Linked DNA regions of Homo sapiens. The protein of the gene in region 2 binds, or shares a complex with, the protein of the main gene of each other region. Each region holds a gene or a part of one and is shown on either strand. Other genes may lie near its edges. The genes, in order: IZUMO1R and IZUMO1. A codon is read from its position in the direction of its gene.

Region 1 (7,650 bases), on a different chromosome or scaffold from region 2:
AAAAGGAGGAAGAATAGAGGAGGGAAGGAAAAGAAAGAGGGGATAGGAAGGAAGAGAGGAGAGGGGAGGGAGGGAGAGGAGAGAGAGAAGGGAAGAGATGGGAAGAAGGATGGGGAGAGGGAGAAAGGAGAGGTCACCTTAAGTTGGAGAGAAAAGGATAGGTGAGCACATGATAAAGGAGAAGAGAGAGAGGAAAGGAAGGAAGGCAGGAGAAAGGGAGAGATGGGATAGGTCAGGTTAAACTAGGGAGGTGTCTGAATTAGTATTCCAGGAAGAGATGCTGGGTGGATTGAAAATGTATCAAGAACAATTGCATATTGTAAAACTGCATACAAACCTCAGTTATGAGCTATTACACTCAGCAGCAGGAAAGAAGAGAGGCAGAAAAGAGAGATGGGATACGTCAGGTTAAACTAGAGAAGGGTCTGAGTTAAAACTATGTTTTTAAGAAATGCAGTTTGGGCCAGGCATGGTGGCTCACACCTGTAATCCCGGCACTTTGGGAAGCCGAGGCAGGTGGATCACTGGAGATCAGGAGTTTGAGACTAGCCTGGCCAACATGGTGAAACCCCATCTCTACTAAAAATACAAAAAGTTAGCTGGGCATGGTGGTGTGCACCTGTAATCCCAGCTACTCGGGAGGGAGGCTGAGGTGGGAGAATCGCTGGAACCCGGGAGGCAGAGGTTGCAGTGAGCCGAGATTGTGTTACTGCATTCCAGCCTAGGCGACAGAGTGAGAGTCTGTCTCAAAAAAAAAAAAGAAAGAAAGAAAAGAAAAGAAATGCAGTTTTATTCTACTCGGGTATTTCTCCTCATTGCAGACAACAAATTGCAGAGTATGCACTCTGGGCCAGGGACTGTGTTTGACCCTGTGACTATTACTGTCTTTCTGGAGCTGCTTACAGAAGAGGCAATGTCGAGCCTGTCTGCAGGCATTCATTTCCAAGGGCAGGAGGTATGTGCAATGACTGCAGCAGCATAAGCTCCAAGAGACATCTCACCAGCCCATGACGGCCATACAAGCTTCCCTGACAGGAAGCCTTCAGTTCTGAGAGCTGAGGGGTATGTATCCCTAGACACAGAGGCTGGGCTATGACAGAACAGCCCTGGAAGTGGGGCCCCTGCAAGCGGCAGGACAATGACAGGCCGTCAGGCCTCAGGAGTGCCCAGAGCATCAATGAGAGCAAGTACAACAGATTAAGATCTAAAAGTAAATAAAAACCACATTTAAAAGGGCTGGTGTGCCATGTTAAGGACCTGGGACTTACCTTAAGGTCTAGAAAGGTTTTAAACATGGGAGCATCATAATTGTCTTTACATTTTTAAAAGATCATTCTGAAAAACAAAGACTGCAAACAAATGTTGAACCCTAGTTAATGATATGCATGTTTGAATTACTTAGGAAGACATCAGTTTACTGATATCTGCAATTTACTTTGAAATACATAAAAAATAATAAGACTGATACCTGAATAGAGAGAAGGATGGTTGGCTAAATATATAATAAAGAAAATATAATAAAATGGTAATGGTGAAATCTAAGTGGTGGGCATATGAGAGAGAGTTCACTATAAAATTATCTCAACTTTATGTTTGAAAACTTTCATAATTAAAATACTGATAAAAGAAACGAAATAATTATATGAAAAATATACCTGCATTCTTATGTTTATTACAGCACTATTCACAATAGTAAAGATTTGGAATCAACCTAAGTGTTCATTAACAGATGAATGGATAAAGTAAATGTGGTAAAATATATACAATGATACACTATTCATCCATATAAAAGAATGAAATCGTATCTTTTGCAGTAACATGGATGGAACTGAAGCCACTATCTTAAGTAAAACAACTCAAACAAAAAGTCAAATACTGCATTTTCTCACTTAAAAGTGGAAGCTAAATAATGTGTACACATGGACATAGAGCATGGAATAATAGATGTTGGAGACTCAGAAGGGCGGGAGGGGGTGAGGTATAAGAAATTACATAATGAGTACAATGTACAAAGCACAGACTTCACCACTGTGCAATATATCCATGTAACCAAACTGCACTTATACCCTTAAATTTATACAAATTTAAAAAAATTCTGAGAAATTAGATCATTATGGCTGCTACTTGATTAAAGCTCTGGAAAAGGGTGGGAGAGCTAGTTAGGAGGTTGTTGCAGTAACTGAGGCAAGAGCCGATCATGGTCCAGACAGTAAGTAAGGGATGTGAATTCAAGAGATATTTAGAAAGTTAAATCAACAGCTTCGGCGATTGGATAGACATAGAGTGAAGAATAAATTAATATCCCTATTTACCTCCCTAGACAGAAACCAATTAAGAGTTTACATGAGGATGGTCAATCAGGTTTGGGGTGAGAAGAATTCATGAGACCCAGTAAGAACTCTGAATCACTGAAGTCCCCTTCGGCTGGCCTCTGACATCAGATTCTCACCAGGAGACTCCTGGCTCTAGCTCTTCACTTTCGTAGTCTGTTCTCAAATTCAGTGGGGGAGTGACCTCAGGATGGGAGAGGGGAAGGAAGTCATCACTGCCCAGCATCTCCAGTGGCCCCAAACCAGAGCCAAGGCTGGGTTGCTTCACCTACTGCCCTGCCCTCCTTGTCCTCCCTCAGAGCCCGCTGAAGGCTGCTGTACCTCTTCTTTTGGAAACGCAAGTGTTGGTTTTGTTGTGTGTGTGTGTGTTTTAGAATAAAAATTGTCTTGAATCAGCCACTTCAAATTGCTTCATCTACAGTCAGCTTTGACTTATCTGCTTTCAGTCAGAAAACAGATTGCTATGGAAGGCTCAGTCACAATAAGGCAAAAATGAGCTTTGCTCAAGGGTCTCAAGCTGCATCTCCCGAGAGCAGATGCTGGCCGGCCTGATGGTTCTCTGAAAGGCAGCCTCACTCACTGGGTAATTCCTTCCTCCCTCCCTCCCTCCCTCCCTCCACCTGCATATGCGCTGGCTGCAATTTTAGCTCATTTCCTACAGCTTTGTCCTGGAGACTGTTATCAAGCAAGCCGCCCTTCGTCCTTCTTCACACCCTATGAAGGACAGTTGTCAGAGGACCTATTTCCATTTCAATAATTACTCTTGTGATTCATGTCTGGATTCTCGGCTCTGGCACCTCCACAGCCATTTTAAACTGAACCTTAAACCCCAAATCTCTTACCTTATCAATGCTTGGAGCTTCCTGAATATTCATGAGGAACTGAACAGAACATGACAGCCTGCTTCTCCCTCTGTCAGGCTATAGAGATGCTATTACCATTTGGTATCTGACCCTAAGGAGGAGACTCCAGGCTCTGCTTAACGTGGGGACATGGGAGACTGGGTTAATAACTGTCACTGTTCTAGAATAAAGCCAACACACGCCTCCCAATACATGCACAACCTCATTATGGCATTTAACGTTAAAAAAAAAAAAAAAGCAGACCTCACTTGAGACCCAGGCACCCAGGCAGTATCTACTCTTTTAGTCCCGGAGGTTTCTCCCTCACCTGGTCCTTAAGCATTAGATAGGGAGTCGAGAATACCTGAAATTATATCCCAGCTCTGCTACTCACCGCTGAGCCTCAGTTCCCCACAGCTAAAACAAGGAGGGTGTTCATATTGGAGGTCTTTTTGAGACCTCAGATCCTGTAGACAGTACCAGGCCAGTGCCTGGCTCCTTGTTTGTGCTCAGCATTCAGTGGCTGTGATTACCCAGGTGTGGAGAATGTCATTTTCCAACATTAGTATATGCTTTACACATCAGTTGTAGCTGAACACCACAGAATGTATTTTATTCCATTAAAAAAACGCTTTTAGTGTTTTGTTTTCATTTCCTTTGTATCAATAAAACTTCAGTGATTTCAGCTACTTCTCTTTCAGAGAGAGAAAGAGAGGACATATTATAAAAACAAAGAAATATGCTCCTTTTCCAGCATTTTTATCATCTTTGGGACTCTCCCAAGAATCCTATCCAAGTTTCCAATCTCTCCTTAGCTGAAAAGGATAGTCTTGCAAATATGATCACTGCTGAGAACACTTGTAGAATATTTCACAGGACAACGATTCCTGTATGCTAAGGGAGGCTGCTTGGCGGGTTATGGAGGGACTTTCTTTGTTTTGTTTGCTTTGGCTTTGTTTGTATGTTTAAATTCTTGGGTCCCCAAGGCCACACTTCATCTCTGCATCCTGTGTCCTCGGTCTGTGCTCCAGCAGGGACCATAGTTCCTGTGGGCTGTGCGAGGACACTGTCAGAAAAGCCACCAGGTGACTGAGCTGATGCTTGGCTAACAGTGAAGGGGCAGGTAGAGCTACGGAACAGAACATAGGAGGGGCGTGTGGAGAGAGGATAAAAGAATAAAATTTAAAACCATTAAGACTTCCTCTATCCCAGGCACAATGCCAAGGTTTTTGTTCATGAACTTTCTCTTTATTTTTCCAATCCCATAATAAAAACTTCCTTTACAGAGAGAGAAACTGACAGAGAATTTGAGTCATTTTCTCCAGGGCAGCCAGCTAGTAAGTAGCAGAGCTGACAGCCGAACCCGGTAACTTATTGTAGAGCCCCGGATCTTGCCTACGATGGGGTCTGTTTCTCTGAGGAAGCAAACTTCCTCGGAACCCACAGGCCTGCAGAGCTGGGTGAGACAGATGCTGTTTAATGAGAGCCACGTGGAGTTCTCCTCCTGCACCTGGACCTAGTAGAAATCAGACTGGGTAATAAATGGGCGGGACATGGAACTCCCCTCAGCCTCATAGTCTCAGGGGGAGGAGGGAGCAGGAGCACCTGAAGGCTCCTGCCTTGAAAGTGAGTATGAAGAGAGTGCTGGAAGGGGCAGCATCTTTCCTCCTTTTACCTAACAGATCTGATTCTTTAAAAATATTCAAGGCCATGGCTGAGCTTGAAACTGGTTGTCTGGAGAGAGAACAGCCTTAGATTTGGACTTGAGGTTGGGCTCTGAAGAGGGGGGCTGGGCTCTTCTTCCCCAGGATGTTTGAGGCTCTTAGACCAGGGTAGGCTAGAAGTTTCCAGTTTCACCATGATGGGTCCAGGTCAGGCTCCTGCCAGACTTGGGGGACTGGGGGAGCCATGGGCTCCTGGGCTATGAAGGTGAGGGGCCCTGTGTCCTAAGAGGTTGGGTGCTTGAGGCCTGGGGCCCCTCTGCCTTTTGCTTTGTTTTGTCTCTCTTTCCACTACCTCTCATTACCACTACTACCCAGAACAGAGTTGGAAATAGGAAGGGCCCTCCTCCTCATTCCTGTGATGGGGATCAGGCTTTGGATGTAGAAGGCTCCTCCTATCTGACTCATGCCTCGGCATGCCCCTGGCTCTGCAGGGCCAGCAAGGCCTCCAGCACTGTGTCAGGCCTCCAAGGATTATTCTACCTGCCCTGACATTCTGTGATGCTGCCTCCAAAAGAAGGTCCTAGGAGCAGCCAGAGTGTTGCAATTATTTGAGGGAGATTGAAGCCCATCCCCCTTTCCCAGTGCCTGCTATGATGAAGGGGGTGGAGTGGGGTGTCATTTCCATCAAGTGTGCAGCATGGGTCTCTCTGTAGCAGGCCATGGCATGCTGGTGGCCGCTCCTGCTAGAGCTGTGGACAGTCATGCCCACCTGGGCTGGGGACGAGCTGCTCAACATCTGCATGAATGCCAAACACCACAAGAGAGTGCCCAGCCCAGAAGACAAGCTCTATGAGGAGGTACAGAGGCCAGACCTGGGTATGGGATGGGGAAGATCAGGGAAGGGACACAAATGCCAAGATGGTCTCCGAACCTCATCAACCCTGATCATTTGGTTCCTGGGGTTAGGAGTTAAGCAAAGGCAACTAGATGGAAAGAGACTATGCCTTTTTGAGACCATAAGAGCCAAGCGATTCAAAGTTCCCATTTCTGAGCTGCTCTAGCCACTGGGAAAGCAGGGACCGCTGGTGATCCCAGAGATCCATTGTTGACTCGGCACAGATGAAAACAAGCCTTCCTGCCAACAGGTCCTGGGGCAACATATGACTTATGTGACCCCTCCCCAAGCTCCTAAAGGCAATTTCCAGGGATATGGGAGGAAGAACACAGCTGGCATTTGGCCTATGAGACCCTCCCACCCAATGCAACCCCAGATTCCCCTGGGTCTCTCTGGGGCTCTTCTACCTGCTTTGCCCTAAAAGGCTTCTGCTGCCTCTCAGGAGCTGAGAGCCCAGAAGTTGTGTTTCTAGAGGACTGTAGCAGCCTGTGGCAGGGGGTCATTGTGCAGGTGCCTCTGCCCTTTGGGTAAATATTGAGAGATTATCAGGGTTCCTCTTATGTAGGGGCTTACTAGCTAAAGGCATCCCACTTGCTCAGGCCTCCTAAGGGACATTTTCATTTCACCACCTTTCTTCCCTAGACACTTGCCGATCCTTGCCCCTTTTGCCTGGGCCTTTTGTTTCTTCCTCTGCCTTCAGTGCATCCCCTGGAAGGACAATGCCTGCTGCACCCTCACGACAAGCTGGGAAGCCCATCTGGATGTATCCCCACTCTACAACTTCAGCCTGTTTCACTGTGGACTGCTGATGCCTGGCTGTCGGAAGCACTTCATCCAGGCTATCTGCTTCTATGAGTGCTCCCCAAACCTGGGGCCCTGGATCCAGCCAGTGGGAAGCCTGGGGTGGGAGGTAGGAAGCAGATCTGTGCCATGCCCTGTTATTATATTAACAGCCAGAGCTTTCACCCGATCTTATGCTGATGCCGCCAGGATGCTAGTAGGAACAGGAGGTGTTATTTCCCTATGGACAAGAGCAGAGCCAGAGGCCCCTGCTGGAGAATCACATGGGGGAGACTGTTCTGACAACAGTGGGATGAGGGGCTATCACCACAGGAGGCTTGGTGGAGTTGACAGACCTGAGCTTCAGTCTCATGTTCTGTCCCTACCAGCTGTATAGCCCAGGACAAACTATTAAATCTCTTAGCCTCATTGGTATTATTTGTAAAATAACACTTAGAGGCTTTATGGAAGATGATGTACATATGGTACCTGGTACAAATACCACTGTAGCTATTAGTAGTCTTCACATCTCTGCTATTAATGTTCTAATCTCTGGCTATGACTGCACCCAGGTGGCCCCGAGTGGGCAGGGAGAGCGAGTTGTGAATGTGCCGCTGTGCCAGGAGGACTGTGAGGAGTGGTGGGAAGACTGTCGCATGTCTTACACATGCAAATCCAACTGGCGTGGTGGCTGGGACTGGAGTCAGGGTGAGTGGTGCTGACAAGGCCTTGGTCGGGAAGAGGCCCCTTGGTGGTCCCCACAAGGGTGCAGGTGCAAAGGCTAGCAATGAGGGAGTAGGAGGTAAGCTGTCCCTCCTCCATCCCCTGCAGGGAAGAACCGCTGCCCCAAAGGGGCCCAGTGCCTCCCTTTCTCCCATTACTTCCCCACCCCAGCTGACCTGTGTGAGAAGACTTGGAGCAATTCCTTCAAAGCCAGCCCTGAGCGACGGAACAGTGGGCGGTGTCTCCAGAAGTGGTTTGAGCCTGCTCAGGGCAACCCCAATGTGGCCGTGGCCCGCCTCTTCGCCAGCTCTGCCCCATCCTGGGAACTGTCCTACACCATCATGGTCTGCTCCCTGTTCCTGCCGTTCCTTTCCTGAGAGCCCTTCTTCTCCCACTCACATTCCTGCATGTCCACC
Region 2 (3,843 bases):
TGTGCAGGGGCAGGAGTCCTGCAGAGATGGCACTCACTTGACAGAGGCTGCGCTGGGCCAGCGCCGCCCCAGCTTCGCCAGCTGCTTCCTGGGGGAATTGATCCACAGGCCCACGGGGAGATGAAGCTTCCCGAAGCGGGGGCTTCCGCCCTCCTTCCGTTCACCAGACAGCATGGCCCTAAGGGAAGGCGGGTAAGGCCCCAACTCCTAAGGCATTCTTGTGGGGATGGGGTGGAGGGAACCTGGACTCCGAGTCAGAGGGAGGAGGGGGCTGGGGCTCAGACTTGCGAGTCCAGGGGGAGGAGAGGGATGGTACCCTGGATTCCTGGGTCCTGGGATGGAAGATGGCTGGGGGACTGAGTCTTGGGGCCCAGGGAGGAGGGGTTTGGGCTGCTGGGTCCCTGGCTCTTACCCTGCTTCGGGTCCGGCACACCCGGAGGCCCTGGCTCCACTGGCCTGGGTCAGTTCCACTGCTCTTGCCTCTGCCACGGCTCCCAGCACTGGGTGGGGGACAGGAAAAGGCAAGAGGAAACCCGGCAGGAAGAGCGGGGAGGGGGCGTCCTGTGAGGAGACCAGGCCTGGGGGAGGAGATCTGGGTAGGGTTGGCCCTGCCCCATTCCTTGATTCTGGAATTACATCGCAGTCAGTTGGTCCCCTCCAGGACCCAAGGGTCCCGGTTTTCTGCCCTTCCTCCCTCAGGCCGGAGCCCATCCCCAGACCTCTCCTCTCGGGGAACCAAAGGCTAGAATCAGTCCCGTCCCGGGGAGTGAGTCAGATGCTTAGACAACAAGATAAATCTTTATTGTTGCCTCGAATCTGTGGCCTTTTCTTTTGGGACCTGGGTTTGCTCGGCCGCTCCACTGCCAAGGCCAAACAGTGAGGATTTGATGAAATCGATCACCTTCCTTCGACGAAATATCCTAGGGGTGGGAGTGGGGTGCAGATCATGGAACCGGTTTGGGTACTAATTGTGTGGGGGACACCCCTCCCAACCTCCCCCTTTGTGACCTTATTCTAGCAATTACCTAAGCCTCGCCCTTCGAAGTCCTCCTATTCAAGCCCCCCGCACTCCATCCCCAGGAAAGTCCTGCTCTCAGGCCTCAGTAGCCCCCAGACCAGCTTCTGTGTTGGGTTCCTGGAAGCCCCGCCCCTTACTCCAAGCCAAGCCTGTCTTCTTCAATGGGTTGCTTACGCAAAGGTAAGGCCGGTTATCAGTGCTAGGGAGCCGCAGATCAGCAGCCCCAGAAGGCGGCTTGCCAGCATTTTCTCGGGCTGCAGAGGCTGGAGGCTTATGGACGACTCCGTGGTCGCCTCCCCCGGGGTTACGATATTTGGAGAAGGTTTTTCCTCCTTGATCATTTTGGGCAACACTGTTAGAGAAAGCGTAAAGAGCAGTCCTGGCAGGGCGTGGAGTTCCTGCCCTGGCAAAGACAAGCCCGTCCCAGTAGCCGGCCATCCCAGAGATAATCACGCCTTCAACAGTGTCAAGCCTGAACACACCCAAGGGAACCCCTGTCCTCGGGGCCAGAGGCCACGCCCCCGGCAGGAAGCCACACCCCGTGCCCCGAAACCACACCCAACAGGAAGTCACGCCCCCATCGCCAAGGCCACGCCCCCGCCGCGGACCCCAGCTTTCCTGGGCCCTGAATCCTACACTTCTCTCAGCCCCACAGCACTGACCTGTGACGTGAAAATTGATGATCGTGGCTGGGCTGGAATTCACAGAGCCCAGCTCGCAGCGGTAGCTGCCTGCATCCTCTGGACCCACCATGGGCTTGGTCAGGGTGGCCTCTTTCCCCTTGGACACCAAGGTCTCCGTATTGTTCCCCCAAACCTAGACCCAAGCTCAAGGGGTCACTGAGGCCTGAGGAATTCAGGGGTTGGGGGAGTACAGGGGTGAGAAGATCACAGGGCCTCAGTGTGGGAGGTGAGTGTCCAGGGTGTCACTGGTCAGGGCACGGGGTCCCCAGAGGTCTGTAGAGACCACACCTAATAGACCACCCTCCTGGGTCATGAGAATCGTGGGTGCAGGCCCATAGATCCAGAACACAAGTATTGTAGTCTAGGGAGTTCAAGGGTTACAGAAGTTGAGGCCCTCACCCTGTAAAAGCTGTAATCAGTGAGGCCTTCCGAAGCCTGATGCCAGTTTAACTCACAGTCCAGGATCATGTCTTCCATTTGAGGAACTTCCACATTCCGCTCTGGGGGTGGGGGATGACCATGGGACACTCATGATTCTGTTTTTGTTTTTGTTTTTGAGATGGAGACTCGCTCTGTCGCCCAGGCTGGAATGCATTGGCGCGATCTCGGCTCACTGCAACCTCCGCTTCCTGGGTTCAAGCGATTCTCTTGCCTCAGCCTCCTGAGTATCTGGGACTACAGGCGCTTGCCACCACGCCTGGCTAATTTTTGTATTTTTAGTAGAGATGGGGTTTCACCATATTGGACAGGCTGGTCTGGAACTCCTGACCTCAGGTGATCTGCCTGCCTCAGCATCCCAAAGTGCTGCGATTACAGGCATGAGGCACTGCGCCGGGCCTCCTTCACGGTTCTTTACCCTCCCCTAATCCTTTACATTTGTTGTAACCTCGTCTTTTCTCTTTTCTTTCTCTCTCTCTTTTTTTTTTTTTTTTTTTTTAGATGAAGTCTCACTCTGTCACCCAGGCTGGAGTGCAGTGGCGCGATCTTATCTCACTACAACCTTCGCCTCCTGAGTTCAAGCAATTCTCTGCTTCAGCCTCCTGAGTAGCTGGGATTACAGGTGCCCACCACCATGTCTGGCTAATTTTTTTGTATTTTTAGTACAAAAACGATGGTTTCACCATCTTGGCCAGGCTGGTCTTGAACTCCTGACCTTGTGATCCACCTGCCTCGGCCTCCCAAAGTGCTGGGACTACAGGCGTGAGCCAGCGCGCCCGGCCTCTTTTTTTTCTTTTTAGACAAGGTCTCACTCTTTTGCCTGGGCTGGAGTGCAGTGGTATGATCATAGCTTACTGCAGTCTCCAACTCCTGGGTCCAAGCAATCCTCCTGCCTCAGCCTTCCAAGTAGCTGGGACTACAGGAACGCAACACCACACCTGACTAATTTTTAAATTTTTTTGTAGAGATAGAGTCTCGCTATGTTGCCCAGGCTGGTCTCAAACTCCTGGCTTCCCAATCCTCCCGTCTCAGCCTCTCGAAGTGCGAGACTATAGGTGTGAACCACTGCACCTGGCCTAAACCCTACCTTTTCTTGTCTACTGCCCCCACACCCCCATCTAGGCTCTCTCTAGACTGCCTCTCCTCTCGCCCCACCCCACCTGCACCAATTCCTCCTGCTGGGTCCAGTTCTCTCACCCCCGCAATCGTAGGACTTTCGACAAGCGTGAACCTCCTTTTTGCAGTTCTTGCACCAGATCAGAGTTTGCAACATCACACCTGGAGGGGCAGGGTCAAGGCTTGTATTTGCCCACTAAGGGGCATGGCTAAAAGGAGAGGTCAGGGCTAAGGGCTGGGGCCAGATCATCTATGACATTCCTAGATGGTCAGACGAAGGCACAGGACCAGGACGCAGGTAAGTAGTAAGTGGGCTCCAACAAGGCTCAGTAAAGATTGTAAGTAGAGGCCGGATGCGGTGGCTTACTCCTGTAATCCCAGCACTTTGGGAGGCCGAGGCGGGCGGATCACAAGGTCAGGAGTTCAAGACTAGCCTGACCAACATGGTGAAACCCCGTCTCTGCTAAAAATACAAAAATTAGCTGGGTGTGATGGCGGGCACCTGTAATCCCAGCTACTCAGGGGGCTGAGGCAGGAGAATAGTTTGAACCTGGGAGGTGGAGGTTGCAGTGAGCCGTGATCGTGCCA

The links.
Region 1: the proteins of IZUMO1 (region 2) and IZUMO1R are in contact, whole or in part, in a crystal structure (PDB 5JKC), measured with the Homo sapiens proteins. Residues at the interface, in NP_872381.2 of Homo sapiens: Met75, Val77, Tyr134, Val141 (codon at 3,415), Leu146 (codon at 3,400), Trp148 (codon at 3,394), Lys150 (codon at 3,388), Asn151 (codon at 3,385), Lys153 (codon at 3,379), Glu155 (codon at 3,373), Val156 (codon at 3,370), His157 (codon at 3,367), Ala158 (codon at 3,364), Arg160 (codon at 3,358), Lys161 (codon at 3,355), Ser162 (codon at 3,352), Tyr163 (codon at 3,349), Asn239 (codon at 1,720), Ser240 (codon at 1,717), Ser241 (codon at 1,714), Pro242 (codon at 1,711), Ile245 (codon at 1,702); in NP_001186135.1 of Homo sapiens: Lys42 (codon at 5,679), Tyr44 (codon at 5,685), Glu45 (codon at 5,688), Ile48 (codon at 6,435), Leu58 (codon at 6,465), Trp62 (codon at 6,477), His65 (codon at 6,486), Leu66 (codon at 6,489), Asp67 (codon at 6,492), Gly80 (codon at 6,531), Leu81 (codon at 6,534), Leu82 (codon at 6,537), Met83 (codon at 6,540), Pro84 (codon at 6,543), Gly85 (codon at 6,546), Arg87 (codon at 6,552), Ile91 (codon at 6,564), Met145 (codon at 7,168), Ser146 (codon at 7,171), Tyr147 (codon at 7,174), Gln171 (codon at 7,369).

The regions. Positions count from the first base shown.
Region 1 is NC_000011.10:94,300,082-94,307,731, forward strand, and holds the start of IZUMO1R (sperm-egg fusion protein Juno precursor), read left to right. Parts: upstream 1-4,498; 5' UTR 4,499-4,798; intron 4,799-5,539; exon of another isoform or gene 5,540-5,549; 5' UTR 5,550-5,555; coding exon 5,556-5,693; intron 5,694-6,431; coding exon 6,432-6,641; intron 6,642-7,083; coding exon 7,084-7,219; intron 7,220-7,342; coding exon 7,343-7,611; 3' UTR 7,612-7,650. UniProt on the Homo sapiens protein: Receptor for IZUMO1 present at the cell surface of oocytes (oolemma), which is essential for species-specific gamete recognition and fertilization.
Region 2 is NC_000019.10:48,740,109-48,743,951, forward strand, and holds the end of IZUMO1 (izumo sperm-egg fusion protein 1 isoform 1 precursor), read right to left. Parts: intron 3,418-3,843; coding exon 3,337-3,417; exon of another isoform or gene 3,300-3,336; intron 2,202-3,299; coding exon 2,101-2,201; intron 1,865-2,100; exon of another isoform or gene 1,835-1,864; coding exon 1,681-1,834; intron 1,371-1,680; coding exon 1,193-1,370; intron 921-1,192; coding exon 800-920; 3' UTR 744-799; downstream 1-743. Other genes in the region: RASIP1 (ras-interacting protein 1), read right to left, coding at 38-174. UniProt on the Homo sapiens protein: Essential sperm cell-surface protein required for fertilization by acting as a ligand for IZUMO1R/JUNO receptor on egg.